Homo sapiens: one gene and its partner. The protein of the gene in region 2 purifies or fractionates together with the protein of the main gene of each other region. This does not show direct contact. Each region holds a gene or a part of one and is shown on either strand. Other genes may lie near its edges.

The links.
Region 1: the proteins of ASTN2 (region 2) and ALDH3B1 purify together in Homo sapiens (affinity purification with mass spectrometry; one large-scale study listed by BioGRID and IntAct). This does not show direct contact.

What each region holds. Positions count from the first base shown.
Region 1 is NC_000011.10:68,020,227-68,024,041, reverse strand, and holds part of ALDH3B1 (aldehyde dehydrogenase family 3 member B1), read right to left. Parts: intron 2,558-3,815; coding exon 2,171-2,557; intron 1,448-2,170; coding exon 1,281-1,447; intron 1-1,280. UniProt on the Homo sapiens protein: Oxidizes medium and long chain saturated and unsaturated fatty aldehydes generated in the plasma membrane into non-toxic fatty acids. May have a protective role against the cytotoxicity induced by lipid peroxidation.
Region 2 is NC_000009.12:117,212,555-117,216,369, forward strand, and holds part of ASTN2 (astrotactin-2 isoform g precursor), read right to left. Parts: intron 2,189-3,815; coding exon 1,804-2,188; intron 1-1,803. UniProt on the Homo sapiens protein: Mediates recycling of the neuronal cell adhesion molecule ASTN1 to the anterior pole of the cell membrane in migrating neurons. Promotes ASTN1 internalization and intracellular transport of endocytosed ASTN1.

The DNA of each region.
Region 1 (3,815 bases), on a different chromosome or scaffold from region 2:
ACAGCAAAATCCAAATAAAGTCTAGAGTGTAGTTAATAGTAAAGCACTGCTGTCACTTTTTTTTTTTTTTTATGGGTCAGGAGATCCTTCCACCTCAGCCTCCCGAGCAGCTGGCATTACAGGTGTGCGCCACTATGCGCAACTAATCTTAAAAAAATGTTTCATAGAGACGGGGTTTTGCTATATTGCCAGCGCTGGTCTCAAACTCATGAGCTCAAGCAATCCTCCCACCTTGGCCTCCCAAAGTGCTGAGATTACAGGTGTGAGCCACCGCGCCCAGCCCTGCCATCACTTTTTTAGTTTTGACCCATCTAAGCACCATTAAATGGGGGAAATTAGGTGTGGGGTACATGGGAACTCTCTGTACCATTTTGGCAACTTTTCTGTAAATCTAAAAGTATTTCCCAATACAAAGTTTATTTAAAAAAAGTTCAAGTGGCCGGGCACGGTGGCTCATCCCTGTAATCCCAGCACTTTGGGAGGCCGAGGCAGGTGGATCACCTGAGGTCAGCAGTTCAAGACTAGCCTGACCAATGTGGCAAAACCCCATCTCTACTAAAAATACAAAGAATTAGCCGGGCATAGTGGCACACGCCTGTAATCCCAGCTACACAGGAGGTTGAGGCAGGAGAATCGCTTGAACCCGGGAGGCAGAGGTTGCAGTGAGCCAAGACTGTGCTACTGCACTCCAGCCTGGGTGACAGAGTGAGACTCTGTCTCAAAAAAAAAAAAAAAAAAGTTCAAGTGGAGGGAATCGAGGAACTGGCTGAGGGCCGGGGAAGGGGGCGGGGTGGGTAGGGACTGCTGGTACCTCTTGGTGTTTTTTAATCTGAGGACTCTGGCCTTGGGCCTCCCAGGCTGCCTCTGCAGCTTAAGCAGGGGTAGGGGATCAGGGCTCATTCTTGGACCTGCACCTTTGGGTCATCCCCGACACGTTGCCTGTGCCTTCAGAGCCAGGCTTGAGGGGTCATGTGGCCACCAGGCCCCGATGTGTAAGAAGGACAAAGGCAGGGGCTGACCTAGAGGAAACACTGGACCCTAGAGAAGGCCCATACCCCAGGAAGCTGCCCACTGAAGGCCTAGGAGAGTGGGGCCCAGACTGGGGACAGGGTTGGGGTGGGTGAGGCTCAGCTGCTTCCAGGAGAGTGGGCAGAGACAGAGCCAAGAGGTCCACCATCCCAAAGTCCTGAAGCCACTGGATTTTGGTGCCCCCCCTGCTGCCACCACTTGTGCTGCCCACTGCGGGCTCCTGACCCTGCCCAGCCCGGCCGCACCCCCACCTGGCTGCTGTTGGAGAAGGCGTACAGGGCCAGGGGCTTCTCCCGCCGGTTGATGAACTCGATGGCCTCGTCCAAGCTCTGCACGTTCACGATGGGCAGGATGGGCCCGAAGATCTCCTCCTGCATCACAGGCTCCATCTCCTGCACATCCACCAGCACCGTGGGGGCTGCAGGCACCAGAGACAGCTCAGCCCTGGGGCCACAGTCAGGACCGCCCCCAGGGTGGGGGTAGAGGTGGGGACAGGGCCACAGGCCAGGGCTCTAGGCCAGGATCCCAAGGTCTGACTTCCCAAGGCTTCAGGCTTTGGAGTGTTTAGGGAAGAAAGTCTCCCCACAGCCCCCCAGAAGGGACTCTAGAGCTTCCCCAGCCTGCTCAGGGCCTGTGGGACACAGAGAATCCCCCGACCTTGGTCTCACAGTCAGGGGTGATGGGATCTTAGAACCCTTGGAGTTCATGAGGCAACAGCGTCCCAGAATGTTGGCGCCGCAGTGTCCCATGAGCTGCTGAGCCGTACGGCCCAGGAGACTGGGGGCTCAGGACGGGACTCTCGGAGTTTAGAACCTGGGGATTGTGGGCTCGGAGAATCTGAGGTTACAGCCTTTCAGGATAGCCAGTGGTGGGATGGGAGTTCATCTTAGCACGCTGAGCCCTGGAGCCCTGGGATCTGAGCTCAGCGAATCCAAGGTGAGGGACCAGAGTTTGGCCTCATAGGGCCACAGACTTAGAAGCACAGAGACGGAATCATGGCACTGGAGCTGTGGCTCAAGGCCGGGCTCTGGCAGTGGGGCCAGGTTTCAGGCGCGGGTCCAGAGTTGTGGCCCAGCCTTGGGCCCTCCAGTGAGGAGGGGTCTTGGCCCAGGTGGGCTGTGGTAGGGGCAGCAGGACTCACCGATGTAGCGATCGCTCTCATCGCTCTGGCCCCCAATGGCCACACGGCCGCAGCCCAGCAATGCCCGCAGCCGCTGGAACTGTTTCTGGTTGATGATGCGGCCCAGGTTTGGGGAGCTCTGGGGGTCGTCGCCATAGAAACGGGTGATGGTGCTCTGCAGGGCAGGCAGCAGCCTCTCCTGCATCTCAGGGCTGCATAGGACGTAGTCGGGGGCCACGCAGGTCTGGCCGGCGTTGAAGTAGCGGAACCAGGCCACGCGGTTGGCCACGGTCTGGGGGTCGCAGTTGTCGTCCACGTAGCAAGGGTTCTTGCCCCCCAGCTCCAGGGTGACAGGTGTCAGGTGCTTGGCGGCAGCAGTCATAACAATCTTGCCCACACGAGGGCTCCCTGGGCATGGAAGGAAACCAGAGTGGCCGTTCAGTGACCTGGACCAGGCGGGATGGCCCAGCCCACGGCCCCGCTCCTCCCTGGAGAGGTGGTGGAGTCAGCGGGCAGCAGCCCTCGCCTGGCCTTTCCTTGTTCCTCACTGCCACCCTGCAGCCCAGGGCCCTGCTCATCCTTCATCAGGACCAGCCCCTAAGCACAGAGTCTCAGGAGGGAATGGTGCACGGCTGCTATCGGCCCCCAGGGTCCCCCTGCTGAGCCAAACCCCTTGGCTCCTCCCGCCTCTGCTTGTGACCCTGGCTGACCCTGCAGGGGACTCTTTGCAAAATGCTGCATGGAACCCCTCCCCACCCATCTCCTTTGGAAACTTCGGGGATCCCTTATCACCCAAGGATGGAGTCCAGCTCTGTCTACGGCATTCAGGTCTCTCTTCTCTAAACCTAAACCTGGAAGTTCTGCCACCTGCCCAGCCCTTTTTTTCTGACCCTTGAGGTGGACTGTCCCAGGCTGATGCAGGCGTCCCCATGTCCTGCCTGGCTTGGCCTCACCTCTCCTCTGTGCTGGCCTCCAGGGGCCCAGCAGTCTCCGCATGCACACAGCCTTCTCTGCCCTAGCCCTGTCTGGGCCTCAAGGCCTCCTCTCCAGACCTGACTCGGGGACCACGCTGCTGCGTCTGTGGGGATGGCCCTGGCATTTCTCCCCCTTGTGGTCAAGGATTAAAGCCGGCAGGAGCCACTGTGCCTTCTCTACTCTCACCCCTGCCCCATCCTGGCACAGTGCTTCCTGGGCTCTGTGGTTCCTTCCAGGGCTCCTTTGCCTTTGCTGGGAGGCGGCCAGGTCAATCCTGCCAGGCCCTTCCCCACGACTGCCTCGACCTGTAAGGCGCAGACTCGCCTGCCAGCACCACTGTCTTCCTCTCGCTCCCTCTGCCCCTCCCTAGCTCAAAAACTCGAAGCCGGGTGTGGTGGCTCATGCCTGTGATCCCTGCACTTTAGGAGACCAAGGCAGGAGGACTGGTTGAGGCCAAGAGTTCGAGACCAGCCTGAGCAACAGAGTGAGACCCTGTCTTTACTAAAAATACAAAAAATTAGCCGGGCGTGGTGGTACATGCCTGTCACCCCAGCTACTTGGGAAGCTGAGGCATGAGCATCACTTGAACCCAGGAGGCGCAGAGGTTGCAGTGAGCCAAGATTGTGCCAAGATTGTGCCACTGCCTGGGTGACAGAGCAAGACTCTGTCTCAAAAAAAAAGAAAAAAAAAG
Region 2 (3,815 bases):
CCAACAGCAAAAACAAAAAACAAAAAAACAAAAAACAAAAAAACCCTCCAATCTAATAAAAAAGTGGACAAATTGTTCTGAATAGAAATTTCTCAAAAGACATACAAGTGACCAACAAATATACGAAAACATGCTCCTTATTAGTAATTATCAGGTAAATGCAAATCAAAAACTGCAATGAGGTATAATCTCATCTCAGTTAGAATGGCTATTATAAAAAAGTCAAAAATAACAAATGCTGGTGAGAATGCGGAGAAAAGAAAACTCATACACTGTCATGCGAATGTAAACTAGTACAGTCACTATATAGAACAGTTTGGAAGGTCCTCTAAAAACTACAAAAAGAACTACCATATATCTAGCAATCCCATGACTTGGTATTTATCCAAATTAAAGGAAATCAGCTTATTGAAGATACATCTGCACCTGCATGCTTACTGCAGGATTATCCACAATAGTCAAGATATGGAATCAACCTAGGTGTCCAACAACAGATGACTAGATAAAGAAAAGGTGGTATGTATACACAATGGAATACATTCAGCCATAAATAAGAATGAAATCCTTTCATTTATGGCGACCTTGATGGAACTGAAGAACATTATATTAAGCAAAATAAGACAGGAATGGAAAGTTAAATGTCACATATTCTTATTCACATGTGGAAGCTGAAAATAATTGACCTCATAGAAGTAAAAGAATGCTCGAGGCTGCTAGTAGGATACAGAGGATATTAGAAGCTGGGAAAGGTAGGAGGGAGACAGGAATAGGGAGAAATTTATTAAAGGAAATAAAATTACAGCTAGATAGGTGTAATAATTTCTAGTGTCCTATACCACTTAAAGATTACTTATTAATGTAATACATAGTTTCAAATAACTAGGAGCTTATTGAACATTCCCAATGCAAAGAAATGATCAATGTTTAAGATGATTGATATACTAATTACCCTGATCTGATCACCATATATCATATGGATCAAAATATCACTATGTACTCCATAAATATGTACGAACATTATTTGTCAATATAAAAAAACATAAAAGAAGTCTAATATGAGCCAGCAATAACTGTAACAAACAAATGGGATCTCAAGCTGCATCAATAGAAGTATAACAGTTGGCAAGAAGGAGACAAAAATCCCATTTTTCTCAGCCCTGGATCATTCCTGCCTTGAGGAAGAAGAGTGTCAGTTTGGGTGTTATGGCCCAGGATGTGAAAAATTAGAATTTCTGTCTAGACGGCAGTGACCAGGAAGGTGAAATGTCTGAAAAATGCTTTATATGAGACTATTTAGAGAAACTGGGGTGTTTAGGTTGTTTAAAATGTACAGTCTCTTTTATTTGTGTTGTCAAATTTCCCAAGAGCTGCTGCCTTGGAAAAAGAATATCAGATCACTTTCCTTTTGGACATGGGGGACCGTGAACACAGATTTCAAGTTGGTATAAGAAGAAACCCTCTAATAGTCAGTAATTGTGTGGAAATGAGATGGCCTCTTTTCCGAGTAGTGAGAAAGCTGTCAAAGGAGGTAATCAAGAGACACTGGAAAGATGTTGGACTGCATAGCCTCTGAGGCTCCTCACAACTCCAATTCTGGGAGTACTGACACTCTTTTATTCTCTCATCACTACTGAAGAATCAGAGAAGACAAACTTGATAACCCAACAGAAATCTAAAGCCATAAATCCAAAGTGGCTTATCCCAGAAAACACTGCCTGTAGTCCCCAACTGCCCAGCTTCTGCACCTCTTCCCATCTTTTCAAAATGCCCCCTGGAAAATGGGCTGTGACATGGAGGACTCACCTTTCTTCTCAAAGTCCACCTTCTCTTCCCCTGGATGTCCCAGACTGTCCAGAGTGTGGGTCACCTGGCTGCCAAACTCGTCCTCGCGGGAGACATGGTTGGCCCGCCTAGGTGGCTCCTCATCCTCCTCACAGTCATAGTCATCCAGGATGGGAGTCTCCCGGATGGGCACGCCAATGACGGAATTGTGGGTTTGCAGCCGGGATGAACGGAAGCTCTCCCGCGCCTGGGGACCCAGCAGCACAGATGGGATGTAGTGGATCTCATGAGTGGCTTCTGTGCTTGCGCTCTTCTGGGGGATGCGGCGACGCTTCTGCCAACGTCGCTGGGCGTACAGCGCCACGGTGAACACCAGCAGCAGCAGCAGCAGCGCGATGAGGCCACCCTGGAGCAGGAAGGAAGGACACACAAATGGGCCACTGTTCTTTGGAATCGAGGGCTGCAGGGGATTTTCCTGTCCACTACACTCTGCCAGGATCCCTGGGTTTGGCTCATAGAGCCTCAGGAACCACCAGCCGTGGTTTTTAAGCTAGAGAGACATTGTTTCAAACCTGGCTTTTTCACCAACAAACTATGTGACCCTAGGCAAACTTCTTCACTTCTCTGAGCCTTGCTTTCCATAGTTATAAAGGTTGAGTAGGAATCCCTGCTCTTCCTTCTTCACAAGGTTGCCATAGGAAGCAAATCAGATGGATAACGGTCATGTCAGAGCAATACAGATAGCTCAGTGGCAGGAAGGGTCAGTGCTGCGGCTTCACACAGGTGAATGTCTGAATCTAGACTCCATCTCCCACCAGCTGAGCATCCCAAGGACAGTTGCCTACGCTCCCCCAGCCTTGCTTCCTCATCTCTAGAATGAGTTAACTGAAAGATCATGAGACAGTAGTAGGCTGTCTTACATCTTGCTGCAAATATAAGATAGCATTATTAAATCAAACATAATGTCTGCATAGTCTGTATTTTCTTCATTTTTCAGAAACACCAGTCTTTAAATTTCTGAATTTCTATAAGGGAACTGGGACAAAGTAGGTCCTTAACAAATATTTGGTAAATGAGTGAATGAAAATGTACCTTTCTAGGGCTCCTTTAATAAGAATTTCAAGGTCAACTGATATATATATATATAATGTGTATATATATACATTTTTTTCTTTGATACACTCAGCTCCTAAATATTTGAGTCTGCATTATCCTACATTAATTTGAAATAAGCTAATGTGTTAATGCACATATCTTACATGATTCATGAAATACTCTGGTCTGTAAGATCCTTCAGGGCAGAGGTATTTTCAAAACACGTCTGTAATCCCCATAACACCTGTCATGAGCTTGAAGTTGAGGGTTTGCATTCTCCAGGCCTCCCCTCAATTGTTCTGTGCCAGAAACCTCTCCTCTGATGGGTAGGCCCTCATCACTTCTCTTGCTTTTCTTCACTTTATACTCTGCTTCATGTTTGGGAGATTGGAAGACACTTTGCTGAATGCCTGCTGTGTAATCCCTAGAGTCAGGAGGAATCACCCTTGTTGTATACAGGGTAGAGAGAGGCTTCAAAAAATCAAGAGACCCAGAAACTCAGAGAGCAAGTGGCAGAGTAATATCTGAGCCTTACTTTTTGTGTGTTTATTTTGTTTGTTTTTGCTTTTTAACTCTAGAGCCTATATTCTTTCAATCCACCTGTGTGGTTGATGGCTTCTCCTTGGCTATGATCTCATTGAAGGCAAGGACAAATTCTGACAACTATCTGTACAGCATCTAACAAAGATGACAGATGTTAGCTGTGAATACATTATCTTAGGGGCAAAGGTGGCTGCTGTTAAACACACCTGTTTAGACCAAGAAGAACACTGTTTGCTGAAATGGGTCAGCCATCCTGCTGACTGTATTTGATATTAGAAAACTGGCATGTTCTATTTGCAAGACCCTCAGCTCACTATGCTGAAATTCAGCACCTCCACAGAGGTAGGGGGACTGGGTGGATAAGAGGACTAAGAGGTGGTGGCCAGGTATGCAGG